Regions from separate parts of the Homo sapiens genome. Here region 1 is linked to region 2. The links come from fine-mapping of genetic effects on gene expression. A gene starts in region 2. The other region holds a variant in brackets. All regions are shown on one strand. Distances are between the middles of the regions.

What was found.
Region 1: its variant is fine-mapped to the expression of ATP11B in lung (TOPMed, PIP 0.91).

The regions. Positions count from the first base shown.
Region 1 is chr3:182,861,213-182,876,798 of GRCh38, forward strand. ATP11B (ATPase phospholipid transporting 11B (putative)) reads left to right here. Exons shown (of 30, transcript NM_014616.3): 13 at 4,244-4,486; 14 at 5,056-5,231; 15 at 6,164-6,232; 16 at 7,866-7,939; 17 at 8,016-8,119; 18 at 11,144-11,325; 19 at 12,600-12,803. Among named protein-coding and RNA genes, the nearest start is that of ATP11B, 76 kb to the left of the region's middle. The variant T/C (reference allele first, on the strand shown) is at 8,666.
Region 2 is chr3:182,784,467-182,800,052 of GRCh38, forward strand. It overlaps ATP11B (ATPase phospholipid transporting 11B (putative)), which reads left to right and starts at 9,038. Exons shown (of 30, transcript NM_014616.3): 1 at 9,038-9,320. The coding sequence starts at 9,294. It overlaps ATP11B-DT (ATP11B divergent transcript), which reads right to left and starts at 8,898. Exons shown (of 3, transcript NR_187316.1): 1 at 8,614-8,898; 2 at 3,684-3,960; 3 at 1-399. RefSeq lists a silencer at 8,873-9,622 and enhancers at 14,406-14,906, 14,907-15,407.

The sequences.
Region 1 (15,586 bases), 77 kb after region 2:
GTGCCACCACGCCCGGCTAATTTTGTATTTTTAGTAGAAACGTGGTTTCTCCATATTGGTCAGGCTGGTCTCAAACTCCCGACCTCAGGTGATCCTCCCACCTTGGCCTCCCAAAGTGCTGGGATTACAGGTGTGAGCCACTGTGCCCAGCCTAATAATACATTTTTTAAAAGATAGGAACCTAATAAAAACAGCACTTGCCAAATTGTTCATGAATACACAAATGCTTCAATAAATACGGCACTTACCTGGACCTGAAGTTTGCCTGTGGAAGATAGGCATCAGAAGGGTTGCAACTTAAGTGTTACTGTGAAGTGTGAAAGGGAAGGTTATCTGAAATCAGAGGGAAGGTTGTAATACCAGATGTGGATGAGTGTGACTCATAACACATGGTGAACTGAGATAGCTAGTAACTGAGTTTTGGGCAAAATTTGCACAAAGTTTTGATTATGCTCAAATTGTCTCTTATTGTATCAGTTGCATTGGGATAAATTTGTGTTTTCAAGACAGTGTTACAACAGAACTGATTATAATTTGTTTCAGATTCTACCTTTTATGTAAGGAGTGATCCTCAAATGGATGCTAATCTTTGGCTATCATTTCAAATTTAAAAGTACTCTACCCAGGAGGCTGAGGTGAGAGGATGACTTGAGCCCAGGAAATCGAGGCTGCAGTGAACCCTGGTCACACCACTGCACTCCAGCCTGGGCAACAGAGTGAGACCCTGTCTCAAAAAAAAAAAAAAATGAAAGGCTGGGCTCAGTGGCTCATGCCTGTAATCCCAGCACTTTGGGAGGCCAAGGTGGGTAGATCACTTGAGCCCAGGAGTTCAAGACCAGCCTGGAGAACATGGCAAAACCCCATCTCTACAAAAAAATACAAAAACAAAAAATACAAATACTAGCTGGAATACAAAAATTAGCTGGGCGCAGTGGTGTGTGCCTGTGGTCCCAGCTACCTGGGAGGCTAAGGTAGGAGAATCACTTGAGCCCAGGAGATGGAGGTTGCAGTGAGCCCAGATTGTGCCATTGCACTCCAACCTGGGTGACAAGAGTGAAACCCTGTCTAAAAAAAAAAAACAAAAAAAACCTCAGGCACTAATATGCTTATCAGAAGCTATTGATTCAGTGGGCCACACCTTAAGGTAATGAGCTGACAGGCCCAGCAGGTAATATTTCTGCTGCTTATGGCTGCTAGAGCTGGCCATTGGATACCTGTTTTTAGTGCACTGCCTCCCTTCTGTGTTCAGCTGTCTGCGGAGACCAGATTCTGTCCAGTTCAGCCTACTAGGGGAATACACCTTCCAGCTGTTGCTCCAATAAATGAGGGGCGTTCTGAAGTTTGCAACTTTTAAAGAGATTTCAGAATTTAAACTACTCCTGATAGCTTGTATTTTCAGCCTCATCCTGTACTCCCACATTCAGGGGTAGCTGGTAGGTCTACTTCCTGAGCGTTTCTGAGAATGGGTTTTCTCATCACTTGGGTTTCAGATTCTAAGTTCTGGTACATCAGTTACCACTCATTCATCTCCTTTTCCATCTTCCAAACTTGTGTCAATCTTCCCTCTCATGCTGACTTTTTTACCATTATTTTTGTTCTTTTTCTGTTTTTTTTTTTATCCTCATGGTGAAGTTTTAAGAGAACCAGAGATAATTAAATGTGCTCAACCTGTCATGTTTAACCACAAGTTGATCCATTTATTTATTTATTTATTTATTTTTGAGACAGAGTCTCACTCTGTCTCCCAGGCTGGAGTGCAGTGGTGCAATCTCGGCTCACTGCAAGCTCCGCCTCCTGGGTTCACGCCATTCTCCTGCCTCAGCCTCTCCGAGTAGTTGGGACTACAGGCACCCGCCACCACACCTGGCTAATTTTTTGTATTTTTAGTAGAGATGGGGTTTCACCGTGGTCTCGATCTCCTGACCTCGTGATCCACCCGCCTCGGCCTCCCAAAGTGCTGGGATTACAAGCATGAGCCACCGCGCCTGGCCAATCCATTTATTTTTAGTAACATTTAGGAGGCCTTAATAATTTATGTTAAATATTAATTCATGTCACATTTCTTTAATTACATATTATATATGTAAGGCCTAAAGGCCCATTTTTACTTTTCTGAATAAATTTTTCCAATCTGCCTTTGACCTTTCTTTCTCAACTCTCTTCCCCTCCTTTTTTCTTCATGATAGAATTTTTGTTTTCCTGGAACCTCACATTGTGTATGCATACTCATGTCTGCTTTGTCTTTAAGAAACTTCTGGTGATTATTTCTTTAATTACTGATTTTCTCAGCCTCTCTTTTTGCTTTTGAAACTACAAGTATTTAATGTATGTTTACTGCCTCTATTCCTATTTTGTCTTTTACCAATGAAATCTACTTTATTTCATATTCTTCTGTGCTCTTTCATTTCCATATTATCCAAAAAACAACTCTTAGGAAGGTTTACAGTGATGACCTGTTTATCATGAAAGTTAAAAGATTAAACTTCTTGATTTTATATATATATATATACTTTTAAATCAAAGTTAATTTATTTTATCCATCCCTACCATCTAATCTTTTTTCTAAAGAATCCTCCATGACTGATAGTGCAGTCTGTATTCTAGTAACCTCTGAGTATTATTTCTGTTTGATTGCTAATGTATCTTATATATTTTCTGTATAACTCATCCCTCATTCTTCCTGATCTACATGTGTGGGCTTTTTTTAATTAACTTGCATGGGGTCTTTAAATTCCAGTTCAACATTGCTATAAATACTGGGCAACATTTAATATCAAATAGTAAAGATAAAGTATTCTATCTCTTATTTCCAGTTTCACCATTTATTTGCTTTTTGACTTTAGGTAAGTTAAGTAATTTTTTGCCAAATTTAACCCTACCTTTCTTTTTGGATATCGATCTTTTTATCCTGGAATTGTGCTGAACTTATATATTCTATTTTTTTTAGTCAGTTTTTTAGAATTTTCTGTATACAAGGTCATATCATGTGCAAATGGAGATAGTTTTACCTCTTGTTTTCCAATCATGTTAACTTTTATTTCCCTTTTCTTGCCTAATTGTCATGGCTAGAACCTTAAGTACAATGTTGAGTAAAAGTGACAAAAGCAGTCTTATTCCTGATCTTAGGAAGACAGCATTCAGTCTCTCTCCATAAGGTACGATGTTAACTGTGAGTTTTTTATAGATACCCTTTATCAGGCTGAGGAAGTTCCTTTTTATTCCAGTTTGTTGAACGCCTTTATCATGAAGGGTATTGGATTTTTATCAAATGCTTTTTCTGTACCTATTTTGGTGGTTATTTTATCAATAAAATGAAGGCCAGGTACCATTTTATTAATATGATGGATTACATTAATTTTTTTAAGTGTTGAGTCAATCTTGCAATTCTGGGATAAATCCCACATATTTGTAGTATATAACCCTTTTTATATGTTTCTGGATTTGATTTGCATCTCTTTATAAGGGATGTTGATCTGTAGCTTCTTTTCTTGTGATTTCTACATCCCTTTTTAAAGGACTTCTTTCTCAAGTCATTATTGCAGTAATCAGATTTTCATGATGATCCTGGTTGGATCAAGACTTGACTATTACATCCTTCTTTTTTCATGGACATACTTTCTTTTAAAGTACTTTTTCTGGAATTAGTCTCCAAAAGTAATAAAATAATTTGTCTTACTTACTTTTAAAAATATGTTTTTTTCTTTTAAACATCGATTTTTTTCACTAAATTTGTTTTCTGTCCTCAGTTTCAACTTCTCTCTGTTTTAGACAATTCGCACCTCTAACTTCTTGTGTTGCTGTCACTATCACTGTGTATTCCTATTCCTAGCTCTGCACTATTTCTCCTCACTCGGATACCCTTTCCCATTCTACATTATTAAGCATCCTTTCCACCCTGCTTTAGAGATAATTCTTAGAGTCCTACTACTTAAAATACCTTAGCCAAGAAAAAGAAAAGAAGCATTAATACCAAATTCTCGTCAATTCTACAGATAAACATGTACGTAAAGATGCCACAAACTTCAAAATCTATGTAGCTTTAAACTATTTTGTGTTACCCTGTTTTCTTTCCTTGGCATCTATATTTATTTAATTGTGCTTGGATTATAAGAATCTCAGCATCCATATATCAATATTAATAGATAAACTGGACTTCAGGAGAGCGAGGACAGAGATTTTTTTCTTGTTTAACATAGGACCATGAACACAAAGGTTTATTTTCTTTTGTTTTCTATCTCTATAGGTAGAGTACGTGTTTACAGATAAAACTGGTACACTGACAGAAAATGAGATGCAGTTTCGGGAATGTTCAATTAATGGCATGAAATACCAAGAAATTAATGGTAGACTTGTACCCGAAGGACCAACACCAGACTCTTCAGAAGGAAACTTATCTTATCTTAGTAGTTTATCCCATCTTAACAACTTATCCCATCTTACAACCAGTTCCTCTTTCAGAACCAGTCCTGAAAATGAAACTGAACTAGTAAGTAATTTTTAAATTAATAAATAAGGGTTTCATATGAAATAATTCTCTTCAGTAGTTGATGAGTTGCAGGAAAAAAAGTTTGTGTCAGTAGAGCAAGGAATATACATTTGAAATTCATATATTTGATTCAACAATATAAAATATAATCCTAAGAATTTGTTGTTACAGCCCAGTTTAACTTGTTATTTAATACGTGTCTGCCTTAGCTCTTTGAGTATTTAAATGGAACGTAGTTAAGAAAAGCCCTTACTGCCTTGAAGTGAAGAAGACTTTCTTTGAAAAATAGAGCTTAAATTTATTTAATACTTTTTGAGACCTCACTTCTTCTATAAAAAAGTGTTCCCCTCTACTTGCAATGTGGTTGTACCTCCTAAAAAGATGCTCACGTGTTGAAGGGTCCTAAGCAAATGTGACATTTTACTTTTTGAAGGCAGAAACAACCAACTGTTATTCAGGCAATCAAGGTTGTAGCACTCTTGTTCTAGATCTTAGAATTTTGCCTCTGGTTTCCTAAATGGTATGTGGAAATGATATTTTTATCATGAATATTAATTACATTTTTACAGATTAAAGAACATGATCTCTTCTTTAAAGCAGTCAGTCTCTGTCACACTGTACAGATTAGCAATGTTCAAACTGACTGCACTGGTGATGGTCCCTGGCAATCCAACCTGGCACCATCGCAGTTGGAGTACTATGCATCTTCACCAGATGAAAAGGCTCTAGTAGAAGCTGCTGCAAGGTAATTTAGTCTGATTTCCAAATCTTCGGAAAAACACCATTTAAATAAATGTAACAATATTAGAATCATCATTTAAAATTTTCAAACATAAATTCGTCATTTTAAGTTGTCAGAATTCATATAAATACATAAAAATAGAAGTACAATTTAAATTTTAAATGACAATTTGAAGTCATTTTATTATCAAGCTTGCATTGAGTCTTTTTTTAAGATCTCTTTGAAAATCTGATTACTATAAAAATCTGTGTAATAGAATTTATTAAAAATGCTTGTGCATATGTTGTACTACACCTACTCTGATCCTTCTAATCCTTCTAGTCCTTAAAAGTATATATATATGTTTGTGTATGTGTATATATATTTATATATTTTTATATACATTTTATAAAAATATGTAAGTAATAAATAAAAATTATTATATATAACATATATAAATAAAAATATATATTAAAAAGAATATATAAGAATATATATAAAATATATATATATTTTTTTTTCTTTTTTTGAGATGGAATCTCACTCTGTCACCCAGGCTGGAGTGCAGTGGTGTGATCTCAGCTCAATGCAGCCTCTGGGGTTCAAGCCATTCTCCTGACCCAGACACCTGAGTAGCTGGGACTGACTACAGGCACAGGGCACCACACCTGGCTAATTTTTGTATTTTTAGTAGAGATTGGGTTTCGCCATGTTAGCCAGACTGGTCTTGAACTCCTACCCTCAGGTGATCAACCCGCTTTGGCCTCCTGAAGTGCTGGGATGACAGGCATGAGCCACCACTCCTGGCACCAAAGTTGTAATATTAAAAGGAAATATTTTTAAATGCATTTTGAACTTTGATTTTAAATGTTTTTATTCAAGTTAAGCTATAGTGACATTGTGAAATATGCAGTATTATTTCTTAAGTCTCACTTTTTTATCCTTTTGATGTCTAGGATTGGTATTGTGTTTATTGGCAATTCTGAAGAAACTATGGAGGTTAAAACTCTTGGAAAACTGGAACGGTAATTTTTTTTCATATATTGGAATGTTTTCTGTGTTAAGTGTATATAGTATAGAATAAGGATCAGTAAACTGTAGCTCACAGGGCAAATGTGGCCTATATTTTCTGTTTTTCTACAGCCCACAAGTCACATTACTTTTTTTTTTTTTTTTTTTTTTGAGACAGAATCTTGCTCTGTCACCCAGGCTGGAGTGCAGTGGCACAATCTTGGCTCACTGCAGCCTCCACCTCCCAGGTTCAAGTGATGCTTGTGCCTCAGCCTCCCAGGTAGCTGGGATTACAGGCATGCGCCACTATGCCTGGCTAATTTTTGTATTTTTAGTGGAAATGTTGACCAGGCTGGTCTGAAACTCCTAGCCTCAAGAGATCCACCCACCTTGGCCTCCCAAAATGCAGGGATTACAGGTGTGATCCACTGTGCCTGGCCCACATTACATTTTTAAAGGGTTGTTTTAAAAAGAGGTAAAATATGCAACAGAGACCATGTATGGCCTGCAAAGCCTGAAATATTTACTCTCTGGCCCTTTACAGAAAAAGTTACTGAACTCTGCTCTAGAATGATGTTAACATTATATTGTATCTCATCATAGTTATAACAATAGTATGCTTTGAATATTTCATCTATATTTTAACTTAATGATTCTTGAATTTACTTGTATGTTTATTTTTAGATGCTTCTGGGTAGTGAGTTTTATAGGTTCTTCTCACTGAATAAAGAAAACTTTCCTTGTATTTCCTGTGATTTTTATCTTTCAAACATGAAGGAACAGCTGTCTATATCTAGTTTTTCCATTCTTTGATAAATTAGTTCATGCTTAATATACTTACTCCTTTCATGGTTTTAGCAATTCTGATCATATGTCAATTCCAGCTGTGCTTTTCCAAACTATGCTTTTCCATACTAGATAGGGCCCATTCTTTGGCTACTTTCATGTGAGAGCCTGTCTAGCTTATTTTATCAACTTATAAACCATTATTCAACTCACTGTTTTTCTTGGAGATGTGTAAAGATTTCATATGTAAATCACTGTGTAAGATTCATCTGGAAGACTTTAAGCCACACCTCATGTAGCCACACAAATTCTTTTACAGCTCCCTAGAGAGGCACGAGGGAATGGACCCCCGCACACACACACCCAGGTTCACAGTCACTGCTATAATGAGCCTTTGATATTAATGTGTGTTGTGTTTGTCAGGTGTATTAGGACAGAAAAAAGCGTTGAGAATCAGTTACCTTTTTTAGTCAGAAAAACATGGAGCTGGGCAGATCTGGATTCCAGTTCTTGCTCTGCCACTCACAAGCTTACCTGACTTTAGGCAAATTACTTAATCTTTCTGAGGTTAATAGTCCTCATCTATAAAAATGAGATAAGACCTACTTTCTTGGCCTCTCATGGATATTAAATGACATAAGGTGTGTAAAATACATGGCATTTGGTAATTACTCAATGTCAGTCTCTTCTATTTCTTCCCTGTTTTGTTATTAATGGCATGTAACCTATCATCATGAAAATGGTATTAATTCTTGTTCTCAATTAGCCATTTTATCTTATATATGGATTATTTCCATATAGTCACTTAATATTATTTTAAAAAAAGTAAAGTTTTTGTCTTTCTTACTTTCTTTTGTTTAGGTACAAACTGCTTCATATTCTGGAATTTGATTCAGATCGTAGGAGAATGAGTGTAATTGTTCAGGCACCTTCAGGTAACCAATCTAAACTTTCATGAATTTTTATTTATGTAATATTAAGAGTCTGATAACTCATTTTTTTTGTCTCTAGGTGAGAAGTTATTATTTGCTAAAGGAGCTGAGTCATCAATTCTCCCTAAATGTATAGGTGGAGAAATAGAAAAAACCAGAATTCATGTAGATGAATTTGCTTTGGTGAGTGCAAATTTCTATGATTTAAAAAACTCTAAAAGATATATTTATGAAATATTTTGGACTTTATTTCTTATAATTTATCAAAAATTGTGGACATTCTGCAGTTGTGTTACACTGTGTGTTGGCTCCACATTCCTTTTGTGAAAACTGACTTTTAACGCAAGCAAAAATATATCTTCTCTTCAAACCTACTCTACAGTCGGGGCATTTCTGGTTACAAGGTCTACTCAAACTATGCTATTTTAGAAGAGTGTTTATTAAACAAACATAGGGGAATCCTAATGATGTGGAGAAACTGGAACCCTTATACACATATTGCTGGTAAGATTATAAATGGTACAGCCACATTGAAAAATAATTTGGCTAAGTTCCTCAAAAGGTAAACATTGAGTTACTATATGACACAGCAGTTCTACTCCTGGGTGGACACCCAAGACAGCTGAAAACATGTTCACAAAAAAATCTTATACACGAAATGTTCATAAGCAGCATTATTTCCAATAGCCACAAAAATGGAAAACCCCAAATGTCCAGCTAACAAGTGGA[T/C]AGGCAAAATGTGGTATATCCATATAATGGAATATCAGTCAGCTGTTAAGAGGAATGAAGTACCAATATATGCTACAACATGGACGAATCTTGAAAAGAGTGTGCTGAGTGAAAGAGGCAGTCAAAAAAGGCCTTATATTAATACTACATTTATATGAAATATCCAGAATAGGCAAATTCACAGAGAAAGCTCATTAATGATTGCCAGGGGCTGGAGGAAGGGGAAAAAGGAGAGTCCTCGTGGGAGCAATGAGATATTGTGGATTTAGATAGTGGTGATAATTGCACAACTCTGTGAATATGCGATATAACACTGATTTGTACTGTTTGAAGAGGTGAATTATATCTCTCATTTACAAAATTTAAAAATATAGGGGAATCTTGTTAAAACAAAGAGCCATCATTCATGTAAATGGCAAAATTATTATGCAGTTCTCTCTCAGTCTTAGAACTTCATGATCTCTCATTTTTGCATTTCTGTGAATGTGTGCTCCACACTCACCTCTGCTCATCTGCCTTCTTTAACAGTTTATGATTTTTTTCCCATTATTTGTTTCCTAATTGTTTATGTTCCAGTTTACCCACCACATCGTAACATCTGTGAGAACAAAGACATTGTTCTACCTTATCACCATTTTAATATTTAAAATAATGCTGGCACATAGTTTGTGCTCAGTAAGTATTTGTTATAGAATGAATTAATTCATATATTAATAACAGATGGTTTTTTAACTATTAATTAAAAGAAGCACATTTATAGGTATGGGTCATTTATAAGTCAGGGAATGGCAATATTTAGAAATCTGCTAAATAGGGCTGGGCGCGGTGGCTCACACCTGTAATCCCAGCACTTTGGGAGGCCGAGGCTAGCAGATCACGAGGTCAGGAGATTGAGACCATCCTGGCTAACAGGATGAAACCCCACCAGTAGTCCCAGCTACTCGGGAGGCTGAGGCAGGAGAATCACTTGAACATAGGAGGCGGAGCTTGCAGTGAGCCAAGATCGCACCACTGCACTCCAGCCTGGGCAACAGAGCAAGTCTCCGTCTGAAAAAAAAAAAAAAAAAGAAATCTGCTAAATAATGTTATATAGTATTTTTAAGTCTACGCTTTCCAAGTTGTTATTAGGATATTTATTATGGGGCTCAGCACAGTGGCTCATGCCTGTAATCCCAGCACTTTGGGATGCTGAGGCAGTATCACTTGTGGCCAGGAGTTTGAGACCAGCCTGGGCAATGTAGCAAGACCCCATCTCTACAAAAAAATAAAACATAGCCAAGCGTGGTGGCACATGTCTGTAGACCTAGCTACTCAGGAGGCTGAGGCAGCAGGATCACTTGAGCCCAGGAGTTCAAGGCTATAGTAAGCCAAGATCACACCACTGCACTCCAGCCTGAGCAACAGAGCAAGACCCTGTCTCTAAAAATAAAAAAGAATATTTATTATTGGTTTTCTTGAGGAAAATGCATGTAGCAAGAAAAGGAACTTTTATAAGTCTTTAGATTTAGATATCAACTTTCAGAGATGAATACTATAAGAAAACTTTGGCCCTAGTAGAACCAGATAATCAATTCTGATTCCAATTCACTGGTGAAGATATATTACTTAAAATCATTTATTTGGTAAATCTAAAAAGTATTTTTTATAATGGCCATTTTATTGACTTATTTGAAAGGTAAATTTTGTCATGCAATGAATCTTTAGGAAATTATGGTCTCCTTTGCTTTAGAAAATTGTACGAAGTAGGTAAAAAATGGAATTGTAAGTTAAAACAGGAAGGTAGAACCTGCAGCTGTCTCTCTCTCTTGACAGTCTTGAAGGTATTAAGAACTTTCTGGCTTTCCATGTAACACAGTTTAAAAACCACTAATAGGATAGTCTTTATGATCTATTCTAGGCTCTAATATTCTACAATTCAGTGACCTTAATTATTTTGAGCAACTTTTTTTTTTTTTTGAGACAGAGTCTCGCTCTTTCGCCCAGGCTGGAGTGCAGTGATGCTATTTCGGCTCACTGCAAGCTCCACCTCCCGGGTTCACGCCATTCTCCTGCCTCAGCTTCCTGAGTAGCTGGGACTACAGGTGCCCGCCACTATGCCCGCCCAATTTTTTGTATTTTTAGTAGAGACTGGGTTTCACCATGTTAGCCAGGATGGTCTCGATCTCCTGACCTCATGATCCGCCTGCCTTGGCCTCCCAGAGTGCTGGGATTACAGGCGTGAGCCACCGCACCCAGCCTATTTTGAGCAACTTCTTAAGAAAACATCAGAAGTTGAAAGAGGTATATGTGTCCCATAACTCAGATCAGTAGAGCTTTGTGACATTATTTATTTCCTGTCACTAGGTGATAGTACTTTTTAAATGATTTGTGATTGACTTTTGGTACTAGGTCTTCAGTGTATTTTGATAGTGACTTCTTGATTTTCTGTTTGTTGTTTGTGTTCAATTTTTGTCTTTAATTTTTATTTGTTTGTTTTAGAAAGGGCTAAGAACTCTGTGTATAGCATATAGAAAATTTACATCAAAAGAGTATGAGGAAATAGATAAACGCATATTTGAAGCCAGGACTGCCTTGCAGCAGCGGGAAGAGAAATTGGCAGCTGTTTTCCAGTTCATAGAGAAAGACCTGATATTACTTGGAGCCACAGCAGTAGAAGACAGGTAAGTATCAGATAATTAAAAAATATTACTTTTCTCTCATAGGAATTTTTGTAACCAAGTATTCTAATATGTGACATAAATTCTCTTTACTAACATCCCATGATATATTTAAGATCAAAGTAGAGAACTAAAGCCTTAATTTTTCCCGGTCAGTATGTACAATTTTTGTTCTAGCTAGATACCTGAAATGGATGAAAGAAACTAGCTCTCTATAGTTTTTTCTTATAGGCTTGAATCTTTAGAATACTCCTCAGCATGTCATGCAAACACTTGAAGCACCTGCTTAATTCTCCAGCCTTCCCTCCTACCACTGTCTCCTTCCGCTTTATGTTTCAACAATACCAAACTGTCTCTGCATGCCACCTGTAGCTAAAACTATTCTGTTTTGTGCCTATGTTGGCCTTCTGCCTGGGTGATTCTTCCCTTCACCATCCCTCTGTGACTACCTATTCATAAAGTATAGCTTAGATATTAGCTCCAGTCCAGTAAGACCTTTCCTGACACCTAAGAGGATTAAAAATTCTCTTCTTTGTGAAGTCTCATTGTAGGTAGTTCTGTTGTTGTCTTTGTGGCACTATATTATAATTATTTGTTTAAAGACTTCTCCTCTGTTAACCTGTGAAATCCTTGAAGTCCATTTATTCTTTGTCTTTGTTCCCAGAACCTATCTCAATGTCTGTTTCACAGTTTCTTAAATTTAGCTGAATTCTGAGATTGAATTCTGCAGATTAAGTTTGTTGTTATGTTTGCCTCCACCACCTAGACCTAAGGGTGTTTGCATATTTTTAAAATCTATGTTTTCATTTACTTTTTGGTTGTCCTTACGAGATTTCTGAGACTCACCTAAAGTTAGCTAGACCTTTATTTTCTACAGTCTGATTTTTTAACTATATGAGTGGTTTGAGATATTTTTTTAAATCAAAACAAAAGGAGAAAAATCTTCTTGTTTGAAATGTAAGACTTCGTAATAAAACAGGAGTTTATGAAGAGCACATAGTTTCATCCTATGAATAGCAACTTTGAAGATACATTCTTAAAATATGAAATTGTAGATTTTAATTGGTTGATTTTGTGTTAACCAGACAATTACCAATCTGTTTATTCGTGTTTCCTTCCTAATGAGAGAAAATTCCAGTTATATTGCTATATTGTATAATAACATTCCTAGGTCAAGTCAAAGAGTTTAGAATTATCCTTAAATATACTATGTAGTTTAACTTAAAATACAGTCATAAAAGTATTCTCTACTACTAATTTGTTTCTGTTCTTTTCAGACTACAAGATAAAGTTCGAGAAACTATTGAAGCATTGAGAATGGCTGGTATCAAAGTATGGGTACTTACTGGGGATAAACATGAAACAGCTGTTAGTGTGAGTTTATCATGTGGCCATTTTCATAGAACCATGAACATCCTTGAACTTATAAACCAGAAATCAGACAGCGAGTGTGCTGAACAATTGAGGCAGCTTGCCAGAAGGTAAGAATATAGGAACCTGTATCATACCTTTCAGGGGTTAGCAAACTATGGTTCCCTGGGCCCGATGATATAGCCCACTGTCACTGCCTGTTTTTTACAGCCTATCAGCTAAAAGTAGTTTTTACATTTTTTGATAGATGAAATCCAAAGAAGAAGAATATTTCATGAAGTGAAAAGTATATGAAATTCAAATTCCAGTGTCTATAAAGTTTGATTGGAACACAATCACATTCATTTGTTTACATATTACCAATGAGTGCTTTTACACTACAGCATCAGAATTGAGTAGTTGCAGCAGAGACTTTACAAAATACTCTCTCTTCAGCTTTACACTGCTGTTTGATACTCTACAAATCACAGTGAGATACATATAATGTGATAGTGTTTGGAGTGCCATGCATAGCACCATGTTGCGACATTTTACTGTTTTTTATTAGTATATGGCCATCATGTCAAAACAAGAAAAGAAAAGTGGACTTTTAACATTACGATTTTTTTTGAAGCACTGTGGATAGGGGATTATTTTATTTTTGAGTTAGATGGCAAAGCATTGTTTATTATGCATTGATATGTTAGCTGTGCTACCTGTTTGAAAAGACATTTTCAAAGATGAATTATAAATCTCATTACATACAGTTCTATCGTATGGAAATGTAAAAATCTCGTTACAGATGGACATTAACAGATGAACATTTGCAATGTTAACTTTGAACCCCAATTAAACAAAGTACTATCCCTTGCCCAAAAGAAGTATTTTCATTCTTCTCATTAGTAAACCTCTCTTATTTAAAAAATTATACTCAATGATTACTACATTTTTATCTTAGTGAAAATTTTGTTGAGATTTTTTCCTCTCATTCTGTAACTACCTATATCCTCAATTTTGCCTCTTGGCCCACAAAACCTAAAATTGAAATATTTACTCTCTGGCCCGTAACAGAAAACATTTGCCAACCCCTGATCTAGTTTGCATGACCAAACTGGGAAATTAAGCTGCATTTAATTGTTCAAGATTATTTCATAAGAATTTATACTCTAAATTCTGTCTTTTTTGTAAATCTATCTTTTATAGGCATATCAAATTTTTGCCCTGTATGGGGGCAAATGATGCCCCATTTAACACAGTCTAATTTTTCACAGTAAACTAGGAAGGGCTTCATTTGACCATCAGAGCTGCTTGTATGTAAGCATATTAGGTCTCCTGCAGGTTTCTGTTGTTTGCTGTCTTGTGATACTAATCCAGAAAAATAAATACCAAGAGACAAATACCATAGTTGTTAATATACATTCAGTGTTTTCTATTTATATTTTTTATGCAGGCATTTATGTGATACCAAGTCTGGATTTCATCTTTTTAAAACCTATTTAAGAGATATTTTAAAAAGACCATGCAGGGGATTTTTTGTTGTTGTTGTTTTGTTGTTGTTGTTGTTTGTTTGTTTTTTGAGACAGAGTTTCACTCTTGTTGCCCAGGCTGGAGTGCAATGACGCACTCGGTTCACCACAACCTCCGCCTTCCGGGTTCAAGTGATTCTCCTGCCTCAGCCTCCTGCGTAGCTGGGATTACAGGCATGCACCACCGTGCCCAGCTAATTTTGTATTTTTAGTAAAGACAGGGTTTCTCTGCATTGGTCAGGCTGGTCTCGAACACCTGACCTCAGGTGATCTGCCTGCCTTGGCCTCCCAAAGTGCTGGGATTATAGGTGTGAGCCACCGCACCCGGCCCATATAGGGTCTTCTTAAAATATCTCTTAAATAGGGTCACACTGGATCTTTGAGTGCAAAAAGACAATTAATTTAGGTAATTATACTACAATTTGGGGACAGTGTCAACAACATTGTGGCTATTTAAACGTTTAAATACTGCAATATCATGAACTCCCTAAAACACAGAAATTAATTGCTCAGAATCATTTACTTTATATATGCCTTTTTAAATATTTTTTTCTGGCTGGGCACAGTAGCTCATGCCTGTAATCCCAACACCCTGGGAGGCTGAGGTGGATCGCTTGAGCCCAGGAGTTTGAGATCAGCCTGGTCAATGTAATGAGACCCTGTCCCCACAAGAAATTTAAAAATTATCCAGGTGTGGGGGTGTGTACCTGTAGTCCCAGTTACTCCGAAAGCTGAGACAAGAGGATCACTTGAGCCCAGAAGTTCAAGGCTACAGTGAACTGTGCTCTTGCCTAAAAAATAAAAATAATTTTAAAAAATATTTTTCTGATTATAAAAATAATAAATGTCTACTTGAAAAATACTGAAAATTGTAAAGCTTATGCAGTGGTTAATAACAAAGTCATCAGAAGATTATTATTTGTAATTTAGGCTATTTTCTTTAAGTCTTCTGTATATAGGTGGTTTTAATGAATATGCTAATCATTAGTATTTGTTTTCTTTTCTGTACAAAAGCTGTATTATAAAACGTAGAGTACACTCTTAAAGTGAATTTTAGGCTTGCCGTCTTAGTCTGTTTGTGCTGCTGTAACAAAATACCTGAGACTAGGTAATTTATAAAGAACAGAAATTTATTTTTCACAATTCTGGAGGCTGGGAAGTTGAAGATCAAGGCACCAGCAAGTTGTATAGTGAGGGCTGCTCCCTGTTCCAAAATGGTGCCTTATTGCTGCATCCTTCTGAAGGGAGGATTACTGTGTCCACACATGGTGGAAGGGACGAAAGGCAAGAGAGGGCAAATCTCTGAAGCCTCTTTTATCAGAGCATTAATCCATTCATGAAGGCAAAGCCATTATGACTTAATCACTTCCGAAAAGGCCCCACTTCAT
Region 2 (15,586 bases):
TCCACTGAGTTACGTGCTCCCTGTTTTTGCCTTTTGGGGCTGGAAATGCAAGCCATGGTAAGGGGGCAGAGATTTTCCTCTCTGTAAAGCAAACGACCACTTCTAGGGGTTGAGCTACAATGTTTTACCTCTTAATAACTGTGGATAAAAATCAAGCAAGCTAAGTAACAAAGCCACATCCCCTCCCCCATCTTCCCCTCTCTGCACAAGCATACAGATACATAAATGCATGCACACACACACATTGACAACATCACTCCTGCTTTGTATAGATGAGATGCAATCTTCTGCAGACAGGCTGCTTCTTCATGCAAGGTCACTGGGTGTGTATATGCTGATTAGCAAGAAGTATTGCTCCATCCAATAAAGTTATTATGTCTCTGTTGAATGATTAAGGACCTGGTCAGTGAACAAGAAAGTCTTAAATGGGAGCTGACAAAACCAACAATTTCTAAACTTTATCTTTTACTCCATGTGTCTGTAATTTCCAACACAGGTATGGTCGGTACCTTTCTGAATACTCTCACCTACAATATTTTTATTATACTCAAGATGGTAGACATAAAATTGTGTTGCTGTTAATAACCTAATTCTGAAGCAGTGTCCCAGGTCTTAAACTATGAACTCCTTGAAGGCAAGGCCTATGGGACTCTTCGCCCAGGCACCTAGGACAATGGCTAGTGTTTGCTACGTGCTTAGCAAACATTTGTGGAATAACTGAATGGTGGCAGAAAAGGTGATGGTGGAGAGAGAGGTCCAGAGGTTAGTATCTGAACACCAGAATAGGAAAGTGCTTAGTATGATTTTATGAATGGGCCACATAAAACTGTCAGCAATTGATTGTAATGACACATTCATGTTGTATTTCACTAGGAATTATCTACAGGAAACCAATTTACCTCACCAGAATAGCAACACTGAATAGTCTGCGAAGTCTCTGACTGAATCAGTATCGTATAGGAAAACACCTCTTACTTCATTTGGTCTTTTCAACTAGTAAGTCATCTTCTTTTACCCTTTTTTACTCATAAAAGTCCATTTTATCATTGATGTCTAGAAAATTCCCTGATTTCTTCACTGATCACTTAAAATCTAGTTTGGTTTTTTGGTTTTTTGTTTTTTGGTTTTTTTTTTTTTTGAGATGCAGTCTCACTCTGTCACTCAGGCTGGAATGCAGTAGTAAGATCTTGGCTCACTGCAACCTCTGCCTCCCGGGTTCAAGCGATTCTCCTGCCTCAGCCTCCTGAGTAGCTGGGATTACAGGCACCCGCCACCATGTCCGGCTAATTTTTGTATTTTTAGTAGAGACAGGGTTTCACCATGTTGGCCAGGCTGGTCTTGAACTCCTGACCTCAAGTGATCTGCCTGCTGTGGCCTCCCAAAGTGCTGAGCCACCACACCTAGCCATAAAATTTCCTTATTCTTTATAGAACAGCTGGTCACACAAACAAACACTTGAGCTCTTGATGAATTCCACAAACTGAGTCCTTGCCCTCCAGAACAGTCTCATGGGGAAGACAGACATTAAAGAGGTTACAGCAAACAATTATATGATGACCAGTGTGCAAAGTACTTGGAGAGATACTGGATACTGTGGGAATGCTAATCTCTTGAACAACTAGCCACTTTCTTCCTGCCTCCCATACAGCAGTCTCTTTGAATCAGTATTTCCCAGTTCTCCACTTCCAACCCATGCTACTTCTTGCAACCTGAAAGAACGGCGCTTGTTTTCTCTTGGATTCAGCATATTTCCCTCTCTCTTACATTTTTTCCCCTCTTTCCACACCCTGGCTTACCTGGCTTCAGCCTTTACTCATCATTTTGTTTCTTTCCTGTCAATCTCCTACTCATACAAATTACATGTACAGTCATTGTAAAATAGTGAAAATATACATGTAATTATGGTGGAGGTAAGGAAATTGAATAATCTTCAGATTAGATTATTTGAAGCTCATTACCTCATTTTAAAATTAGTCTTTGTGGCATAATCATGAATAATTATGTCTTACATTTTCCTTTATTTCTTCTATTCAAAAAATATTGAAGGTGGCTTAAAAATATATATACAGTATAATAAGATATAAAGGAAGTGAAGTAACCAACCAAAAAGAAATTAAGAATAGACAAAATAAGAAGTTGGGGTAAAAGTAATTCACAAAATGTACACCATAGGGTCTGGGCACTGGCTAAAAGTAAGCCTCTGAATTTTTGAACAACCACCACAACAACAAAAGGAAGCACATTCAATTATATAATTCAAAATGCCCACAAGATTATAAAACTAGTTGCTCAAGAAAAGCAGTTGGCCAGGAGCAGTGACTCACGCCTGTCATCCTAGCACTTTGGGAGGACAAGGTGGGTAGATTGCTTGAGCTCAGGAGTTCGAGACTAGCCTGGGCAATATGGTGAAATCCCATTTCTACAAAAAATACAAAAATTAGCTGGGTGTGGTGGCTCATGCCTGTAGTCCCAGCTACTTGGGGGGCTGAGGCAGGAGAATAGCTTGAACCCGGGAGGTGGAGGTTGCAGTGAGACAAGATTGCATCACTGCACTCCAGTGAAACCCTGTCTCCAAAAAAAAAAAAAGAAAAAAAACCAGTTATTTGTGGTACTAAATTTCTGCAGGCTCTTGTTAAGAGAACACAATGTGATAAGTTAGCACGTTCTCAGATGCATCTCCACAGTAAAAACAGTCAGTCAGGGGTTTCTGAGGCTGCGTCTCCTACCATCCCTAGACTTAGGGTATTTGTGTGATCCTAAACAGCAGTTTGGTAAAAGTAATCATAGGAGGAATCAAAAGAAGACTATCCAAAAAAAAAAAAAAGACTTCTCACAATTTTTTTTAATCTAAAGATAAAAATTAGAACACCCAAATACAGTGCAGATTTCAGGAAATCTTCCCTAAGTGTTACTTCTTGCGACTCAGCATTTCTGAAAATATCCAAAAAGCAGAGTCGTGTCAACGATTTAGAGCATATTCATTTGCATTAGCAGTCATGGGAACTAGGAATGGGGTTAACGCTGTGTTATAAAAATTAAGGAAACAGAGGAAATATTTGTGGGGTAAGCCAAGATTTTCCTTAGACAGCAATTTTGGATCTATTCCAATAGAAATATGAGGGCAATGTGACTCCAAAGGTTTTTGCCGTTGAACACAACTTGGGAATGCTTTAGCCCAGAAAATCTATGAAGCAGCTGTTAGCAAATACCTACCTAATACAGTCATTTTAATCAGAAAAAAAACCTCATAAAATATCTAACCTCAAAAAATGAAACTTGTGACATCTATAAGATAAACTATTGTAAAACTAACGCCTCCTAGACGGTAAGCAATTTGATCTACGGTGCAGCACAGATAGCCCAAAAGTTGGTTAAGCGCCGCAGACTGTCTCAACGATAACAGTTTTAACAATTTTAGTTCTGCTGCAGCTGATCTGAGGCCACCAATATTTCTGTCAGTAATTCAATCAGAAGCCACTTGGCTATTTAACTTCCTTCCCTCCTTAACCCAAAAACGTATACAACAAAGTTCATTCATTTTTTCCCCATTCTGTCTTTCATAAGAGAGGTGACAGAATCCCACGTCCAGTTCATCCAAAGATAGTATCAAGTTATTGAAAGGCAACTTAAAATAAGGAAGAAGGAAGGTACAGAACATATTTATGTTTTGTGTACTTTCTCACCTTTCAAAAAAGTGATCATTTTTGTGAGTTCTAATTCTCACATTGGCTTTGAGTATCAGTTCTGTGTAAGCATAAGTAGCCAAAAAATAAAGATGAATTCATGTAATTGCCCACAATAGATATATTTGAGGAATTTTCAAGAAAAGATGCAAATATGCAATGAGATGTTGTTTCTGATGAAATTCTTCACAAGGTGATAAAATATATAATCCTATTCAGTAGAGAAAAGTTTGCTTGAAGTCTGTTCTTTCTTTGCCTAAAGTCTGGTCTGGAAATCCTGAAATGATAATCAGAAGGAAAATGCTTTTTAAATGGAATAATTTGTAACCTAGTACTAGATTGATGATTTTGAGGAAGTGAAAAGTTGTCCTTTTTTTTTTTTTTTTTGAGACGGAGTCTCACTTTGTCACCCAGTCTAGAATGCAGCTGTGTGATCTTGGCTCACTGCAAGCTCTGCCTCCCGGGTTCACACCATTCTCCTGCCTCAGCCTCCTGAGTAGCTGGGACTACAGGTGCCTGCCACCAGGCCCGGCTAATTTTTTTTATATTTTTAGTAAAGACGGGGTTTCACCATGTTAGCCAGGATGGTCTCGATCTCCTGACCTCGTGATCCACCTGCCTCAGCCTCCCAAAGTGCTGGGATTACAGGCGTGAGCCACTGCACCCAGCCAAAAGTTGTCCTTTTAAAAAATGAGATAGAGCAGATTCTGATGCCCATCTGATAGCTCCATCACTATAGAAATATTTAGGGCAACAGATTGGCGAGGCTGTGTCCTTCAAGCAGACTGACCCTTGAAGAGTTCTGAAAGGCACACAACAGGAAGTGCCCTGGATCTAAATGATGGTGACCACCGGTCTCACTGCATAGTTTGGGATCTACTAAAGTTATTCAGTGTGCTTGGCTCTATATCACTTTGATGTTTTTCTCCATATACTCGGTCGTTGGCTTTCTTAGTTCATTTTACATTTACTGAGTACTCCTTAGACGCTGTGGGTACCAGAATGAATGAGCCACAAATGTCGACCTTAACAAGATCATAGTCTGTGCTTCCTATTGATGGTCCAAGATGTTCTCATCAAGAAAAACAGCCCTCTTTGTTTTGTCTGTGTTATAGCTGAGAATACTGTACTGAACTAGGAGATGTTTTTCTCTTGGGAATGATCATGTCTCACAGTATAACTAGCACAGAATTACATTAACAAGTTTACTCAACAATAAGAACCATATTTACCATTTATTCAGTGGTTGTTATGAGATGCTGGTAAACTTACTCTCTCGGAGTTTCTGTTACTTCACTTGGTACAGCTTAACTTTCCAGTTTCCCTGCATCACAGCACAGCTTCCTGTAACAGTTTGTTACTTCTGGTTCTTTGCCAGTCCAGCACTTTTCAACTTAATGTTTCACTCTTGCAATAACTTCCTATCTGACCTTTCTTCTCTCTCCAACCTATCACATATAGTGTCAATGGACTAGTACTCTGATTTCATCCTGCCATTAACCTGATCAGAAAATTCCAGAGATTGCCCATTTCCTGTAAACTCTTATGACTAGACAGAAACTCACCCCACACTATGCCTCCCCTTACTTACCCAATCTCACCTCTTATTACACCAAGTTAGTTGTACCTCAAACATCTTGAGCTTTCTTGACTCTGTATTTGCTCCTGCATTTCTTCCTGTTGGAAAGTCTTTCCCTCCTACCTTCATCCTCCCACTTCAAGTTCAGCTTAAATTCAGCTCCTTTCTTCTGAAGCCTTCCCCAACTGCTATTGCTCACATCAATTTTCTGAAATGAGTGTCTACTGTCAGTATAGTTCTTCAGGACTTAATCCCATACTGACTTGGATTGTTATTTAACTGATTCCCCTCTGCAACTTCTTTTTCTAACTAGATTTTAAACTACCCAGGGAAAAGAGGCTCACCTTAAAAGTTGCCTTTGCGTCTCCTCCTAGTTTTAGGCAGTTGTTATGCATACATTTGATGCTCAACACATGTAAGAAATAAGTGTGGATTGAATGAATTACCACTGGCTCCAAGCATTTTTTTCCCTTTCCTTTATAGCTGGTGCCTGCCTTCTTAAGTCCTTAAGTTCTGTATTTAGCCATCTCAATGTTTTTCAAACCTTTCTAACCATAACCAATAGGAGGAAATTGCTTTTATATTGTGACCTGATGTACATGTGTATGAAAAATTCACAAAACAATACGTGTAAGTACTTACTCTGTGTCATGTATTCTGCTGTTTTCTATTCTATTTTTTAAAATACAGATCATGACACACTAAACTGATTTCACCACCAGGTGGTTATACTTACAGTATTGTTGGGGCTCAGAAATCAACATCCCAAGTATAGTGTTTTGACATGCTGAACTGAAGAAGCCGCAAAATCTCTCTGGCCTCCCCTCTTTGCTCCACCATCTCTCCCAAAGCACAAGATGAAGTTGAAGTTCCTTTATCTGCCCAAGATCTAGACCCATCAAAAGGAATAATTGTTTTTCCTTCCCTTCCTGTAAGACCAAGAATGTAATCACACCTAATAGACCCTTTGACAAAATAACATACAAGTTAATTAATCTCTGTTCCCTGATCCATTCATCTTCCCTAGTAACTTCCTCAACAGAATTCCTCTTCTCCCCACTCCCATAACCTGTTTTGCCAGGATGGTATATTAGCTTGTCAACCACTTAGGGGGTTGGCAATCACTCTATGATTCTCCCCATGTGCACACTGTGTGCACATTAAGTTTATATGCCTTTTCTCTAATCTGCCTTTTTCAAGTTGATTTTTCTTCAAATCTTCAGAGGGCCAAGGGGAGAGCTTTCCCTTGACCCCTGCAGTATAAAAACGCTCTCCTATCTTATGCTCCTTGTAAGAACATGAGGTGTATAGTACTGCTCTTAAAAAAATGCTTAAAATGGCCGGGCACGGTGGCTAACGCCTGTAATCCCAGCACTGTGGGAGGCCGTGGCAGGTGGATCACGAGGCCAAGAGATCAAGACCATCCTGGACAACATGCTGAAACCCCATCTCTACTAAAAATACAAAAATTAGCTGGGCATGGTGGCGCACCTGCAGTCCCAGCTACTCGGCTACTCGGGAGGCTGAGGCAGAAGAATCGCTTGAACCCAGGAGACGAAGGGTGCAGTGAGCCGAGATCAGGCCACTCCACTCCAGCCTGCCGACAGAGTGAGACTCCGTCTCCAAAAAAAAAAAAAAAAAAAAAAAAAAAAGGCTTAAAACACTACCTGGGCTGCTCATTCTGTTCCTGACAGTTTGAGCTTCAATTTGATCTTTACATAGTTACCCTGAGATTACTTCTTACCATATTCCACCAGAGCACTAGGAATCAAGCCCTTCCTTCTCCCAACTTCTTCCTTTTGAAATTTGGGGCACAATTAAATAATGATACACAAAGTATTCTCCAGATCGCTATTTCTTATGTTATCTTGAAAAATTTTAGCGGCATATAAATAAAAATTTCCAGGCCTAATTTGTAATCAAACCATTTGCAGATGAATAAAAGTAGGCATGGCCATATTTTTATTTTTGGACGTAGCTTAAGAACATGAGCACTATTGCCTGACAATCCAGAATCTGAATCCTAGCTTTGCCAAATTAGTGTGAGCCTCCATTTCTGCATCTATACAAAACGGGAATAATACCTACTTCAAGGGATTGATTGGAGTTAAATTACAGCATACAAGTAAAGAACTTGATACAGGACCTGGGTGCTCCATGAATGGACACAGTGCTCCATGAATGGCAGTAAGGTTTTGTCACTAAATATATCTCAAAACTTCCTTTTAGGGTCATAAAGTAAGGTTTAGCCACAAGAATAAAAGTAAGATGACTTTTCAAATATCTAGCTATTTTTTGAAGTTGGATGATTTATAATATAAAATTCCATGTTGGTTTTACAGATCATAAATATCCCCAAAGAAAGATTCTATTTGTGGTGCTGGATAAGCATTATATAGTAAGAAATGTCTACTGAAACTAGAAGATTGAGGATGCATATTCAACGACCTGCCTAGTCATGCTAATCTCATTTAGATTTGTTCTTGCTTAATTTTTTTTTTTTTTTTTTTTTTTTGAGACGGAGTCTCCTTCTGCCGCCCAGGCTGGAGTGCAGTGGCGCCATCTCGGCTCACTGCAAGCTCTGCCTCCCGGGTTCACGTCATTCTCCTGCCTCAGCCTCCCGAGTAGCTGGGACTACAGGCGACCGCCACCACGCTCGGCTAATGTTTTGTATTTTTTAGTAGAGATGGGGTTTCGCCATGTTAGCCAGGAAGGTCTCGATCTCCTGACCTCGTGATCCACCCGCCTCGGCCTCCCAAAGTGCTGGGATTACATGGGATTACAGGCGTGAGCCACCGCGCCCGGCCGCTTAATTTTTTTTTTTTTAACCACAAACGTCTGTCGGTGAAGTGTGCTTTAATTCAGCAAAAATACAGCATTCAATACATATACATAACACAATATGTATACGGGGCTGCTTTTAAACAACGCCAAACCTTTAAGTCAAAGCCTTGTTCCAGTTGCTTGTATATTCCTTCTGAGCTTGTCATCCACACACTTTTTTAACCTAGGTCAAGTTACTGCTACGGGTGTTTTTGATTGCAGAAGTTTGGCAGTTAGCAGTAAAGAACTACCTTTTTATACAAATTATCTTCCCCTGAACCTGTCCAATTTAGCACACGGCAAGACAGAATATCTCATCCATTCGCCTAGAAACACGGGTCCAGGCTGTACCAGGCTCAGGGGACTTGCAACGCTTTCGAATCACTTAATGGGTGTGATCAAGATTTCCCTAGCCCCGTCTCAGCCATTTGCTAAAGAAGAGGCCTGACTTGTGTTGAGACGAAAGCTCTTACAGCTTGATGGAACCCAAACTGGGACTTCTGGGGGGATTAACTTTCAGTCACATACGTTCAGGACTGTGCGTATGCGTGTCGGGAGACGCGTGAACCAAAGAAGCCACAGAGCCCGAAAAAGACCTGCAACAGGAGGTAGAGACCGAGGAATCGGCCCCAAGCTGCAGACTCCGGAGATGGCCAGACCCACAGACACGACTTAATCCCACTCCCAGAACGGGGAGGAGGGTGGCAGTGGACAGAAACAGCGTTCGAGAACCCGGCACCTTTCCACGCTCGCTTCTTCCCGGACCCACAACACAGAAACCCCCCAACTCGGAACGGCGGCGGGGCGCGCCAGGCCCCCCTCGGTCCGCGCACCCCCTTTCGTCACGTCCGGGGGCGGGCCGGGGCGCCGGGGGCGGTCCCGGGTGGAGCCGGGGGGCCGGGCGGGGCGGGGCGGGGGTGGGGTTGCGGGGGTGCTTTGGGTGACAACGGTCAATAATGAAGGTGGCTGCGGCGCGGCGGCAGGCTCAGCTGCGCCGGGCGGGGGCGGCGCCGGGGCCGCGCCTGTAGGACTCGGGGCCGACGCCGCGGGATGGGGACGCGGCGCGGGGAGTGAGGCAGTGGCGGCGGCGGCGGTAAGCGGAACTTCGGCCCGAGGGGCTCGCCCGCTCCCGCCTCTGTCTTGTCGGCCTCCACCTGCAGCCCCGCGGCCCCCGCGCCCCGCGGGACCCGGACGGCGACGACGGGGGAATGTGGCGCTGGATCCGGCAGCAGCTGGTAGGTGCCCCCGCCCCTCCACCTCCATTCGTCCGCCCCCGCGGGGCCTCTCGGCCCGGGGTGGCGGGGAAAGGCCGGCGGCGCGGAGCCGGGAGGCCAGGGCGTGGGCGCCCGGCTAGGCCGCAGCGGAGACGGGCGCGGGGCCCAGAGCCGGAGAAGCCCCGTGCGGCTCCCGGGCTCGTCTCGCCTCCAAGCCCGGGCCGCCGAGGCTGGCGCCGAGCGGCCGGAGGCGGCCGCTTCTAGCCGGCGCTTCTCCGTTACTTCTTCCCCCTTGCCGCTCCGGGGCTGCTGTGGCCAGAGGCGGGAGTCCCGAGCGGGGTGGCGGTGCCCCCAGAGGAAACAGGGCGAGGGAGCTGAGCGAGAGTAGGTCTTGGGGAGATGAGAGAGGCGTGCTCTTCCTGCCTCGAACAATTTGGGACGTGTTTGGGTGAAGGGGAAGCGAAGAACCTGTCTTCTGCCCCCACTCGTCACGGACTTCTGGAAGCGTGTCACGATCCAGAGCTGTGTTGATTCCCGAGGAGGAGGCTGTCGTAGGTGTCTAGCCCCCTCAGCGAGAGACGTTTCTCCCCAGGACCTGGAAAGGGGAAAGACTGTGCCAGCTGCCGGTCTAGCTTCGGAAACGATACGTATTGTACGATAGTTACGAACGATACGTACTGTCGTTTCCTTCCTACCTCGTCCTCACCCCACCCCGAGTGAAACTTTTCGAGTGTGAACCTTACTTTTTTCCCGTTCTCCTCAAGGCAGTTTGAACGACACAGGTTTGGAAGGAATAGTTAACTCTCCAGTATTATTGGAACATCTGGACACCACCAACAAAAAATCTTAGAAAAGGGTCATTTAAGGCCTATAAAAAGTGCCACCTTTCCCAGAATTAATTCAGAGAGAAAAATCTTATCTGCCTCCTGGCAGCTACAGCGCAGAAAGTACAGCATTAAGGCAGCTGTGACAATTAGGACAGAAATTGCCCCTGGCTGAAGAAGCCTAACCTTATCTGTGTGATGAGGCCGGTTACTATTTAATTTCTAAATCGCATTAACTTAATGCTTCTACAAGTTGGCGTTTTCATTTACTAATTCTAAAGGCAGTGGTAAAATTTAGTGAAACAGGAACTATTTTTGTGGGACGAAAGCACTGATAACTCTTTTTCCCTTCTGCTCTAGAAAAGCATTTTAACGTTAAGACCAAGAAGTGTGGTGTTTCAGAGCCAGCCTTCTGTTACTTCGTTTTGCAGCGGGCATCATTCTCAAAAAAAAAAAAAAATTATAAATAAGAACTGCCTACCACTCCCTCCTACAAATGTTGGGTCTCTGTTTTTAGCATTGTAAATTCAGATATCCCAGATATATGCTTTATTAGGAAACCAAGCTAATGATGTCATTATAATACCATCTTGTAATACTTTGGCTTTGTTGCAGTAAGCTGTAGCACAGTAATTTTACTCAGAAAGTTAATTATTACAGATTTGATCTTATGCTTTTGATTTGCCAAATCTTCTTGTATAGAGGGCTGATTTACCTGATGGTGTTTTTGTGTGGTAGGAAGATCATTTTAAAGTGGTTCTCTTGAAGCTTTTTTAAAAATGTATTGAGACATCCTTTCTCACTGTTAGGTATTTTTTAGCCAGAATAAAATCCTGGTTGTATAACCATGCTCATCTTCAAGACAGAAAACCTGGTAATGTTTTTTAAAATGGCTTCAAATGAACCCAGCTAAAAGGAAGGGCCGGAAGTTGTGTGTGGTTATTTTACAAGGCAGCCGTCTTAACAGGGATGGTTAACGAGTTGAACAAGTTCCTGTGCATAAAAAATGCTATCTCTGACATTTAGTTGCTCACCTCACTGGTTTTAAGTTATCAGATCCTCTAAGTATGTAATCATACTTGGGCCAATGTAGGACTTTGTGTCTCTGGTTAAGTTTGTATGATCACATAAATTAAACATCAAGGACCCTGGATACAGAGTAATGAAAGTATATTTTGCTATCCCAGTCATAGACAGCTATTCTGATTACTGCACCAGAAATTATTCAACTCAGGTAAAAGCTAGTTTAGATTATACTTCCAGTGGCTTAATGGATTGAATCACCACGACTTTCAGCAATGGGTTTATTTTAAAATGCAGATAACTAGGACAAATTTGGGGAAATTGACAAGCAAATCCTAAGGACAGGTTGGAGTTATAAGCATATTTAATTCGTTATATGAATCCCGATTTTCAACTAATGTCTCACAAAAAAGTCCTTTTATTACAGAAACAATGCCTATGTTCTAGTAATTTCTTTTTAATTAAAAAAAAGTGTGACTCCTTATGACAAAATATTTTCACTACTTGAGAAGATGGAAAAATCAGAAAGTTGACAGAAGCTTGATCTTTTCTATTGGGAAAGTAGGCTGAAAATAAAAAGATTGGAATATCCTTTTTTGTTTTTCTTTTTGGCACACAATGTTAAAGTTACTTGACACTAAGAAAATTCTCTTATGGTGTCTTTGTGGTACAGTTAGTATTATTCAAAGTATACTCATTTTCAGTACCATATTTTATGTATTAACTCATTAGAGATGACAATACCTTGATTATAATTATGGAAATGCCATTAGCTACTCACTGTATTCTAATATTTAGACCTGTACGGTAGCCATTAGCCACAAGTGGCCATTAAAATTAAAATTGGAGCCATATGTGGGTATTAAAATTAAAATTTGAATTCATGTGTCTATTGGCTGCCATTGGCTGCCATATTGGACAGTTCATATTTTCATTATCACAGAAAATTCTATTGGACAGCACCAATTTAGACTTTTAAATGAAAGTCTGTGTCAGTACATATTTGAATGTAATACTACATTTTTAAAGCACTTGCTGTGTGCTGGTATTAACAGATGCTGAATACCAGGGATACAAATGTTGGTCAGGGTCACACATACTCTACATAAGTAGACATTGGATACATGTTGCTGAACAAATAATTAATAGATGAGGAAAGAAAGAATGAATCTGTAGTGTTGTTTCTGTGTTTAGAGACAAAAATGACCAAATTTAAGATTGACTAGCCCAGAAAAAAGTTAGAAAATGAGTAATTACACAAAAACAGTATTACTAGGATAACTGTTTCTTAAACTGTTCCATAAATGTAATCCCTTTAGATTGTATTGGCGATGGTGGTAGGAGGCTGCTAAGATTGTCTTCTGATTAACTGAGAAAAATGAGAAGGTCTTAATCTGAACTCCCTCAACTTTCTGTTCTTCCTCACACTCACCGAACTTGCTTATATTTTATACTGGTACTTAATTCTTCCCTTCACAGTCACAAGGAAGATGCAACCCTCTTTTCCAAGATAACAATTCCACTTAAGCTTTTGATCCTTTTCTTTCATTCTGCTGTCCATACTCCATCAGTTATCATTAGTATGTTTCTTTTCTTTCTCTTTACTTTTTCTCTTAACTTGTGAACATGTTCAAGCCTCTCTGCTACTTTTTCCTGTACCTGTAACTGGCAAATTCTTTTTAATTTTCTGAAAAACAGATCTATAAAACTGTGCTGGCTGATGTATTTGGAATGTGGCTAGTTTGAGTAGAGTTATTCTTACGTATAAAATACACATTGGATTTCAAAAACAGTATTAAAAAATGTAAAACCTGGCCGGGCAAGGTGGCTCATTCCTGTAATCCCAGTACTTTGGGAGGCCGAGACAGGCAGATCACCTGAGGTCAGGAGTTCGAGACCAGCCTGGCCAACATGGTGAAACCTCATCTCTACTAAAAATCCGAAAATTTGCCTGGCGTGGTGATGGGCACCTGTAATCCCAGCTACTCAGGAGGCTGAAGCAGCAGAATCACTTGAACGTGGGAGGCAAAGGTTGCAGTAAGCCAAGATCATGCCACTGGACTCTAGCCTGGGTGACAGAGGGAGACTCTGTCTCAAAAAAGAAAAAAGAAAAAAGAAAAAAGAACTCTCATTTTTTTGTTAGTTACATGTTGAGATATTATAATATTTTACATATATAGGTAAAGTAAAATAAATTTTTGGAATTTTGTTTCTTTTTACTTTTTTTAAAGTGGTTAGAAATTTTAAAGTTACCTACGTGACTTGCATCTGTTGCTCATGTTCTATTTCTATTAGTGCTGCTGTATAACATTAAAAGTGAATTCCTGTATCCTGGTAAGAATAGTGAGATCCTGTCTCTAGGAAAGAAAAAAAAATTAGCTGGGCATTGTGGTACTGACTTGTAGTCTCAGCTGCTTGGAAGGTTAGGGTGGGAAGGTCACTTGACCCAAGTAGTTTGAGGCTGCAGTGAGCCATGATCATGCCACCACACTCTAGCCTGGGTGACAGAGTGAGACCGTCTGAAAAGAATAGTGAGCTCCTGTTTTTACAGAACACATTGTGGAAGTCTAGATATCTCACTTACTAGACTAGACTGTAAATATCTTAGGATAAGAACCATATCTTACTTGTATTTATATTCCTTACACTCAAGACAGCAGTTGGCCCATTGTAGGTATTCACCTGCCAAATGTTGGTTGAATAAATGAATGAGTATCAGATCTAATTCAGCATCAGTTTGAAAATACCTGCATTCTCTGCCTCTTTTCCAAGGAATGAATGAAGGAATAGAAAAAGGAAGCACTGGCCTAGGGTGGTATTTTTTTTGTGGATAAGTTTTAACCTCAAGAATTAATGTTTAAGAACCTAGATCTGTGAGTATGTGCTGCTTTATCTCTATTTTCAGACATATATTCTTAGATACGCAGTTTTGCATTTGGTTAGGAAGAGGATAAAGCATTAGAGGAAACTCAGGTATTCCCAGCAACACTGAAGTAGGGACCTTGCTCCAGATCCTCTAAAGAGCCTTATGATTACCATTATTGTCATTAAATGTTTTCTAGACCTGTGCTATTCAACATGGTATCCACATATGGCTGTCGAAATGTAGGCACTTGAAGTGTGTCTACTCTGAATTGAGATGTGTGTGAATGAAATATGCAGTGGATCTTGAAGACTTAGTTTGGAAAAAGGATGTAAAATATCTCATTCATTTTCTAATTGATTACATGTTGAAATTATATTGGGTTATATAAATATACATGTATTTGGTTAAATATTAAATGCTACTTGTTTATTTTTACCTTTTTTTAAATGTGGAAACTAAGAAAATTAACATATGTGGCTTAGGCCATATTTCTGTTCTACAGCATTGTTTTAGATTATGGTAACAATATATAATGCCTGGCATAGGCAGATTCAAGAAAGTTTTTGATTCTAAGGACTTTATGACTTTACCCAGGCTTTTTTTCTGTGAGTTTTCTATTTTCAGAGTGTTGGTCTGCATTATATCTAAGAGACTAGAAGCTGCCTGATAGACTAACTGCATCTGGTCCCTTGGAAATAATTTATCAAGTCAACATCGACTGCTGTGGGGTTCTAGATTTAGCCATGCTGTTTATTCTTCATTTTGTTTCTGCAGTTGTCTGAGTGCTGATCTTTCTTTCTTTCTTTTTTTTTTTTTTTTGGAGACAGTTTCGCTCTTTCGCCCAGGCGGAGTGCAGTTGCGCGATCTCAGCTCACTGCAAGTTCGCCTCCTGGGTTCCCACCATTCTCCTGCCTCAGCCTCCGGAGTAGCTGGGACTACAGGCGCCCACCACCACGCCCAGCTAATTTTTTGTATTTTTAGTAGAGATGGGGTTTCTCCGTGTTACCAGGATGGTCTCGATCTCCTGACCTCATGATCCGCCCGCCTCGGCCTCCGGAAGTGCTGGGATTACAGGCGTCAGCCACCATGCCCGGCCCGAGTGCTGATCATTCTAAGCAAGATAATATTCATAATTAGCTTAGTTTTTACTAGAAATGTGCATTTTTATTGTTTAATTTTAATTTTTTTATTCTCAAAAGGAAGTAAACGTGTATTTTTTAAAAAATATCAAAATGAAACTCAAGATTTGAGTTTATAAACATAGTTGAAAGATTTTATTCTCAGATATTCTTTATTTTGCTTTTTTTCCTGGAGTTTCTCTGTTATAAAATTTAGTATAAGAAAAACATTCTAGGCCAGGTGTGGTGGCTCAAACCTGTAACCTCGGCACTTTGGGAGACACACAGGAGGATTGCTTTGGGCCAGGAGTTTAAGGCCAGATTGGGCAACATAGTGAGACCCTGTGTCTACAAAAATTAAAAATTAGCTGGGCATGGCGGTGCCTGCCTTTAGTCCCAGCTACTTGGGAGACTGAGGCAGGAGTATTGCTTGAACACAGGAGTTCAAGGCGGCAG